Homo sapiens: one gene and its partner. Changing the gene in region 2 together with the main gene of any one other region gives a genetic interaction. Each region holds a gene or a part of one and is shown on either strand. Other genes may lie near its edges.

The links.
Region 1: changes in SPOUT1 (region 2) and TCOF1 together harm fitness more than expected from each alone (negative genetic interaction), as found in Homo sapiens cells (one large-scale study listed by BioGRID).

Annotation. Positions count from the first base shown.
Region 1 is NC_000005.10:150,367,572-150,371,381, forward strand, and holds part of TCOF1 (treacle protein), read left to right. Parts: intron 1-272; coding exon 273-346; intron 347-1,144; coding exon 1,145-1,331; intron 1,332-1,957; coding exon 1,958-2,031; intron 2,032-3,810.
Region 2 is NC_000009.12:128,823,005-128,826,814, forward strand, and holds part of SPOUT1 (28S rRNA (uridine-N(3))-methyltransferase), read right to left. Parts: intron 3,626-3,810; coding exon 3,536-3,625; intron 3,430-3,535; coding exon 3,380-3,429; intron 3,149-3,379; coding exon 3,018-3,148; intron 2,046-3,017; coding exon 1,973-2,045; intron 1,866-1,972; coding exon 1,767-1,865; intron 1,171-1,766; coding exon 1,068-1,170; intron 891-1,067; coding exon 743-890; intron 1-742. Other genes in the region: KYAT1-SPOUT1 (uncharacterized protein LOC127739546), read right to left, coding at 743-890, 1,068-1,170, 1,767-1,865, 1,973-2,045, 3,018-3,148, 3,380-3,429, 3,536-3,625. UniProt on the Homo sapiens protein: S-adenosyl-L-methionine-dependent methyltransferase that specifically methylates the N3 position of a uridine in 28S rRNA. Required for association of the centrosomes with the poles of the bipolar mitotic spindle during metaphase.

The DNA of each region.
Region 1 (3,810 bases), on a different chromosome or scaffold from region 2:
GGCCTCCACGTCTCATGCTGCGGGGGAGTTGGGAATCCATCAAGGATGCAGACACATAGCTTCATGTTACCATCCTCTTCTCTCTTGCTCCTGGTGGACCTGGCTGATGCATCACAGAGCTCATTCCTGCAAGTCTGGGCTCAGCCTCAGATCCTCATGCCAGCACCAGGCAGCCAATACCAATAGAATTGTTAGGTGAGATGAAACCTGTTTGCCATTCATAGATGAGAAAAGCTCATCTGGCTCCTTTAGCAGATGTTTGTTTCTTGCAGCCCCAAGACTAGCATCTACCAACTCCTCAGTCCTGGGGGCGGACTTGCCATCAAGCATGAAAGAAAAAGCCAAGGTGAGTGGGACTGCCTTCCAAGCTATTGCCTATGGGATTTAAGGTGCCTGGTAGGGGACAGTCTTACATGTCAGAGAAGGATAGGGTTGTGAGTAATTGCCCCACCTGGATTCAGAGCTCAACCTGTGTCACCAGTTGTGGGATCTTAGTCCCTTCACCTCTCTGGGCCTCAGTTTACTTTTCTATAAAGATAAGGATGATGCCTGCTGCAGTGGGCCACTGGGCACATTCTACACCTGGGGTAGGCGATTTCTTTCCTCTTTCATGCCTGCGTTCACCCGTTCACTCAACAGATCTTGACTAATACCTGTTATGTTCCAGGCACTGTGCTAGGTGTGGAGGCACCGTAGTGATCAAGACATCTGTGGTTCTGAAACTCTAAAAGCATTTTCCAAACTGGAAACTGCTCAAAAAACAAGGTGTCATTTTCTAATAATCCAGAAAGCAGAGTTAGATACATACATGTATAAAGAATTGTGCCTCTGCGATTGCCTGGAGCATTAGCAACAATGTCTCAAAGTAATTATGAAGTAATGATAAGATCAACAACAAACTGCTACTTACCACTTAGTAAATAACTACCATGTCCCAAGAACTGGGATTCTGTTTTCTCAACACCTCTGGTGAGAGGAGGTGCTGTTTTTAACCTCACTTTAAAGATTGGGAAACAGATTGAAGGGGTAGTTTACCCAAACTCACACAGCTAAGAAGTGGTAAGATTGGGTTCAGATGCAAGTGGCCTGTGCTCTTAGTTCACCATGCCATACCAGATGTGTCTGTCACTCTTGTTCTCTGTAGGCAGAGACAGAGAAAGCTGGCAAGACTGGGAATTCCATGCCACACCCTGCCACTGGGAAGACGGTGGCCAACCTTCTTTCTGGGAAGTCTCCCAGGAAGTCAGCAGAGCCCTCAGCAAATACTACGTTGGTCTCAGAAACTGAGGAGGAGGGCAGCGTCCCGGCCTTTGGAGCTGCTGCCAAGCCTGGTAAGAAGTCCCCACCTCTAGGAACCTAGTCCCCAGAACTTGGGCTGGTGAGGCAGGCCTAGGCATTGCTTTAAGTTCTGGGACATTTCTGGAATCAAAAGTTTGTCTCCAGGACAGCCAGGTTCCTGCATCTTAGGACTTTTCTCATCACCTAGACGAGGGAGGGTCAGCTTACAGGGACCTGGCCTCAGGCTGAACAGCCCACCTGGTGGTTGGAGCATTTTCTGCTTTATGACTCCCTGGTGAGTTACAGGGACAACTGGCAGCTCAGAGACTAAACTGAAAGGCCTGATTTGCCTCTGTTTCCTATGTAGAGTAGACATCTGTCTGGCCTGCATCAGTGGATATGATGGTGGATGGAGGTTCTGTAGACTGTCAGGTGCTGGTGCATATTTGTTGGGTCCCCTCACAGCCCTTCCCAGGGCCTCAGAGATGTGTGGGAACATAGGGATGGTGATGGTACCCACCTCAGAAGGGGGCTTCACAGCTCAGTGCATGTGAGGCACACGAGGGGTGAGCGCTCAGCACCTGGCTTTGATGAGCAGCTGGTTTGTGGGGAGGTGCTGGGGAGGGGCAGGTGAGGCTGGAAAGGGAGTCCCTCAGTCCCCTCCGTGTCCGATCCTCAGGGATGGTGTCAGCGGGCCAGGCCGACAGCTCCAGCGAGGACACCTCCAGCTCCAGTGATGAGACAGACGTGGAGGTAATTGCCACCCATCCCTAGGAGTTGCCCTCTCCCAGCCTCTAACCCTTCCAGGAACCTGTCTGGGGCTTCAGACACCAGTGGGCCCAGATGAGTTCAGCAACTGTGGTAGGGTGACCAGGAGCTGGAAAGGCTGCAGCCGGAGAGGGGCAGGGAGAGGAGTCTGGTGCTGCTTGCTGCACTCTGAGTGTGAGATCAGCCCTGGGGGCAGGAGAGGGACACCCTCCTGCCTGTGAGACTAGACAAGCCTTCCTGGGAGAGGTGCCCTGGAGTAGGGCCTCAAAGCACAGTGGGCTTCACTGGGAAGGGATGTGGAGGAGGCAGGGCATTCCAGACAGGAAATGGGGCAAGAACAGGGCCCAGAGGCAACAGTGTGGCTGTCGTGGTCTGGCTAGGGCTGCGGCTGCTGAGAGGGTTCTGGGCCAACTGGTGAATGCCAGGCCTAGACACTTGGCTAGAGTTGGGCAGGACTCTTGGGTTTGTGAACTTTGACCTGGAAAAGGTCTCCACAGGTTACTTTTTATTGTGTACCTACTAAGTGGCAGACCTGGGGAATATAGTGATGAGCAGGACAGGCAGAGTTCCTGCTGCCATGGGGCAAGGGAGCGTCCCTCAGATATTTAATTGGTGATGGCTGCTATGAAGTGGAAATGTAGAGGGCCACGCAGGGCAGGAACCTGACGTTGATGAGTAGGCGTAAGCAGAAGGAATGGCATGTGCAGAGAAGGCGGCAAAGAGAGTTTGGTGCTTTTAAAGAACATTGATCTTTTTTTAAGACAGTCTCACTGTGTCACCCAAGCTGGAGTGCAGTAGCGCGATCTTGGCTAGCTGCAACTTCCACCTCCCGGGTTCAAGCGATTGTCGTGCCTCAGCCTCCCAAGTAGCTGGGATTACAGGTGCACGCCACCACGCCTGGCTAATTTTTGTATTTTTTGTGGAGACAGGGTTTCACCATGTTGGCCAGGCTAGTCTCGAACTCCTGACCTCAAGTGGTCCATGTGCCTTGGCCTCCCAAAGTGCTGGGATTACAGGCATGAGCCGCCACGCCTGGCCAAAACCTTGATCTTTAAATGAGAGGGAGAAACCAGGCACGGTGGCTCGCACCTGTAAGTGCAGCACTCTGGGAGGCCAAGGCAGGAGGATCATTTGAGGCCAGAAGTTTGAACCCAGCCTGAGCAACATAGTGAAACCCTGTCTCTACAAGATGTTATTTTTTAAAAAAACAAATAAATTATGGGGAAAGTGACACAAGATGAAGTCCTAGGTAGACAGGGGCCAGATCTTCTGTCTGACCTTGAGGACCACCATAAGGAATTTGGGTTTTATTCTAGGGGCTGTGAGAAGCCATGCCAGCAAGGAGAGATGGCCTGATTTGCATTTAATAAGATTGCTGGCTGCAGCCTGGGTTGGAGGGCAGTGCAGAATAAAAGCAGTAAGACCATGTAGGAGACTATTGGAGTAATACTGATACTGGCATAAGAGGCTGGGGGCTGGGAGACCAAGGTGTCCACAGTTGGAAAGATGTTTTCAAGGGAAAACCAGCACAAGTCAGGGATGAACTGATCTGGTGCCCAGGGAACTTCTCACTTTACTGTGCTGCCTGGCCCAGTAACCCTGTGAAGGTTGAAAGCTCACCCCCATCTACCCCAGGCCTTACCAAGGGCTGCCCTCCACCTTCCGTCCTCACCCTTGCGCCCTAGATACCACCAGCTGTAAGGACATCCCTGGCTTCTGTCACCCCAGGCCTTGCCAAAGGGAAGAAGACCACTCCCAGCCCTC
Region 2 (3,810 bases):
CCTGGAGGACCACACAGCCTGCTCCTCAGGCTCCTCTTCTGTAAAATGGGGGCGAAGGTAACAACGCCCACCTCCCAGGGCCAGGGGAGGGCAAGAAGAGGGGCAAGAAGTTTTCACCCCTCGTGCAGGGGTTGGAAGGGTGGCAGCCAGGGTTCCTGCTGGGGGGTATGGCTGTCAGGCTCAGAGTGCTCGGCTTGGGCAAGGCCTTAGGGATGGGTAGACAGGGCTGTCGGCCCGGCGAGACTGATGGGAGTACCAGCCTTCCCAGCAGAGTTCCCGTAGCACAGCGTCCTATGCCTGACCCCAAAAGTGGGTACACAGGTTCCATGAGGCCAGGACGAAGGCTCCAGCTGCACGTGGCTTCCCCCGTGGGACAGATGCAAGTGAGACCCCAAGGGGAGAGCTGCTGTGCCCACCGTGGTCACACACAAGGAAGTGGCAGAACCAGGGCCCTGGGAGATCACTGAGCGCACGGCTAAGGAACCAGAGGCCCGGAGCAGGGGTGGGCAGGGCCCCCTGGGTCACCCAGTCTGGGAGCACAGGACGGGCACTAGCACCCATGGTTGACTCCCAGCTACACTCATGTCTCGTCGCTGTGGCAAGAGGCCAAGGGGGATGAGAGGACCACCTCCAGACAAGGCAGCCACGGGCAAGGGTGGGTGACAGGGCAAGAGTAGCACCCGCCCCTCGGACAGATCCCAAGGCCCCAGTGGCTGGCAGTCGGGGAGGCAGGCGGGCTCACCTCCGTGCGGATGGTACGGCTACCCTGGCCAGGACAGGTATTGACGTACAGGTCAAAGAGGACACTGGGTTCAGCCACCTCCAGGTTGGGGTCAGCATCCGCTCCAGCTTCCAGACCCTGGAGGCCCCCGAACACCACAAGAGCATGCCTGGCCCATGTAAGAGGGGGTCACCTGAGCGGCCACCGAGGCCCCACCCAGCACAGCGCCCAGACCTCAGTCCCTCCCCACCCCAGACAGCAGGGGCCCATCTGTGCAGCTTCACCCACCAGGCAGGTTCCTGGCCACATTCCTCCTGCCCTGGCCGCAGCCCCAGGAGGTACACACCTGAAGTTGGGAAGCTGGGCAGAGGCCACATCTGAGCCGCGCTCTGACGTCCCGATGGTCAGGTCATACCCATCTTGGAAGGGGGCCTCAGCAAACACAGCACCTGGGGGTGGGGCCAGCTCAGTGCAGGTCCTGCTCCCCACAAGCCATAGCTCCGGGTATTATGTGTGTGTGTACTGAGGCGGGGGTGGGTGGGAAGAGCTGTGTGGTGTGTGTGTGTGTGTGTGTGCGTGTGTGTACTAAGGTAGGGGTGGGTGGGTAGAGCTCTGCCTGTGTGTGCATTGAGGCAGGGGTGTGTGTGTACCGAGCAGGGGTGGGTAGAGCTGTTCCTGGAAAGTCAAGGACTGAGCAGGGCAGACACCAAGCCTGTGCTTGGCTGGGGAACAGGGCAGAGACTGGATAGGAAGAGGCACCAAGAACATGAAGTGGGCCTCTGACTTCTCTGGCCCTTTTGCCTCCATTCCCAACCCTACAGAAACATTATTGATCAATAATGATACTTTTGCTCAGTAGTCCTTAACAGCATTCCAGGCAGTGCATCCAGGGAGAACAAGGCCCAGAGAAGGGGAAGGACTTGCCCAAGGACACACAGCAAGTTGACAGGACAAAAACCCTGGTCTGATATTTGGGTCAGGCAAGGCTCCCGGCCACCTCCCAGAGGGATGGATGGATATTCAGAGAAGTAAGGTCTGTCCTTACTGAGGCAGGAAGCCAGTCGGACGGTGTAGCCCCAGTAGAGACCAGCTTTGGTGCGAGGGTCCTGCGATGATACCACTTTGCCATGGTAGGTCTTGCAGTCTGGAGGGGTAACAGAGTCTGTAAAGATGGGGTGAGGGAATGGAAGCAGGTGGCTGAACCCTGGAGCTCATCAGGCCAACCCAGGGGTTGGGGAACCTTCCAGATACCTGGGTGCTGCTGCTGGTTCAGTCGCACAGTCACCCGAAGCCCGGGCTCCAGGTTCTTGTCAATCTTCACCTCCTGGGGAGAAGCCAGAAGAAATGGGTGCCATTCCTCTCAAGATCAGCAGGGGCCACGGCTCTTCCAGATGCCACCAGGGGAGCCCCGGGGCTGGCAAGGGACCAAGGGGTCCAGGTCAACCTGCCACCCTCCACCCCTGGCACCGGCTGAACCTGCTCACAAGAGATCATTTGTGCAAAACACAGGTCACTGGCCAAACATGCACCTTTGGGGCGCTCATGGCACAGGATAGAAGTAGATGAAACTCAGTTTTCTACATTTTGGTAGCTCTGCAACTTTTTTTTCTTTTTTTTCTTTTTTAAGATGGAGTCTGGCTCTCTCACCCAGGCTGGAGTGCAGTGGCACGATCTCAGCTCACTGCAACCTCTGTCTCCTGGGTTCAAGTGAATCTCCTGCCTTAGCCTCCCGAGTAGCTGGGATTATAGATGCGTGCCACCACACCTGGATCATTTTTGTACTTTTATTAGAGACAGGGTTTCACCATATTGGCCAGGTTGGTCTCAAACTCCTGACCTCAAATGACCCGCCTGCCTCAGCCTCCCAAAGTGCTGGGGTTACAGGCGTGAGCCACTGCGCTTGGGTTGTGCTTTCTGACAGGAAGGGACTCCATACATGTAAAGGTTTCTGCCTCTGATTTGAGGAGGCTTGAGGATAAAGAGGCGGCAAATTAATGCCCTCATCCCAGCTTGGCTCTGTGCCACATGGGAGCAGCTCCAGAGTGACTTTCAACTTGTTTCTGCAGGGTTTTGTTTGGAGCATGAGGACTGTCTTCTGTTGATTTGCTTTTTAAGCAACAGTAAATTCATTCCTGGCTTTATCTATTGAGCCCCATTTTGCACAATTCTCTGGCCCAAATTTGCATCAGTGAGGGATTTCGGGCAGGTCCAGGGCTCTCCGCAACATCCATCTGCTTGCCCTCCATTGCCAGGGTGTGTCCTGGAGGTGTGTCCTAGCCCATCTTTCTGTTCCTACCTTTTTCATGCCACAGTTGACAAAGGAGCCGTGGCCTGGCCGGGTGGGCCGATCCACCACGATGCCCTCTCGGAACTCGGATTCCTCATCCTGACGCATGTGGTGGGGGCTGTCCAGGGGGTTCAGGAGCCCTGTGGAGGCAGAGCCGGGAAGAGTCTGGGAAGTGCTAGGGCACACAGGGTGCAGTGGGGACCCTGGAGCGGAGTACCGGCTCTGCCACAGACCTGCGTCTTGGCATCAGACACAGGTCTTGCTCTCCCAGGCCTGCTTTCCCACCTGGACAGCGCAGGGTAGGACTGGGTGGTCTCAGTGTCTGTGGCATGATCCAGGGGAAATGGGGGGGCGGGCCCATACAGCGTTACCTGCAAACTGTAGATCCTGGTGCTTGGGGAAGAACGCCTTCCTCAGGTACCTAGGAAAGAATGCTGACCTCAGGATGTTCCCAGGGGAAGCCGCCTCCTACCTGGTCTCCACTTTGACACACCCCTCCCTCATGCTTAGGGGAGTGACCCCCTTACTGTGGACACTCCAGGTACTGCAGGATCCGGGCCAGCTGTACGCACGCCTGCCCCTTCTTCCCAACTCCTGTGAATTCCCCCTCCACAGTCCTGGAGAGAGAGAGATGGGGGCTCAGGATCCAGCTGTGGCCCCTTCAAGAGCTCCTGTCTACAAGTGCACGCGTATAATCCCAGCTACTCAGGAGGCTAAGGTGGGAGGATCATCTGAGTGCAGCAAGTAGAGGCTGCAGTGAGCCATGACCATGCCACTGCATGCACTCCAGCCGGGGTGACAG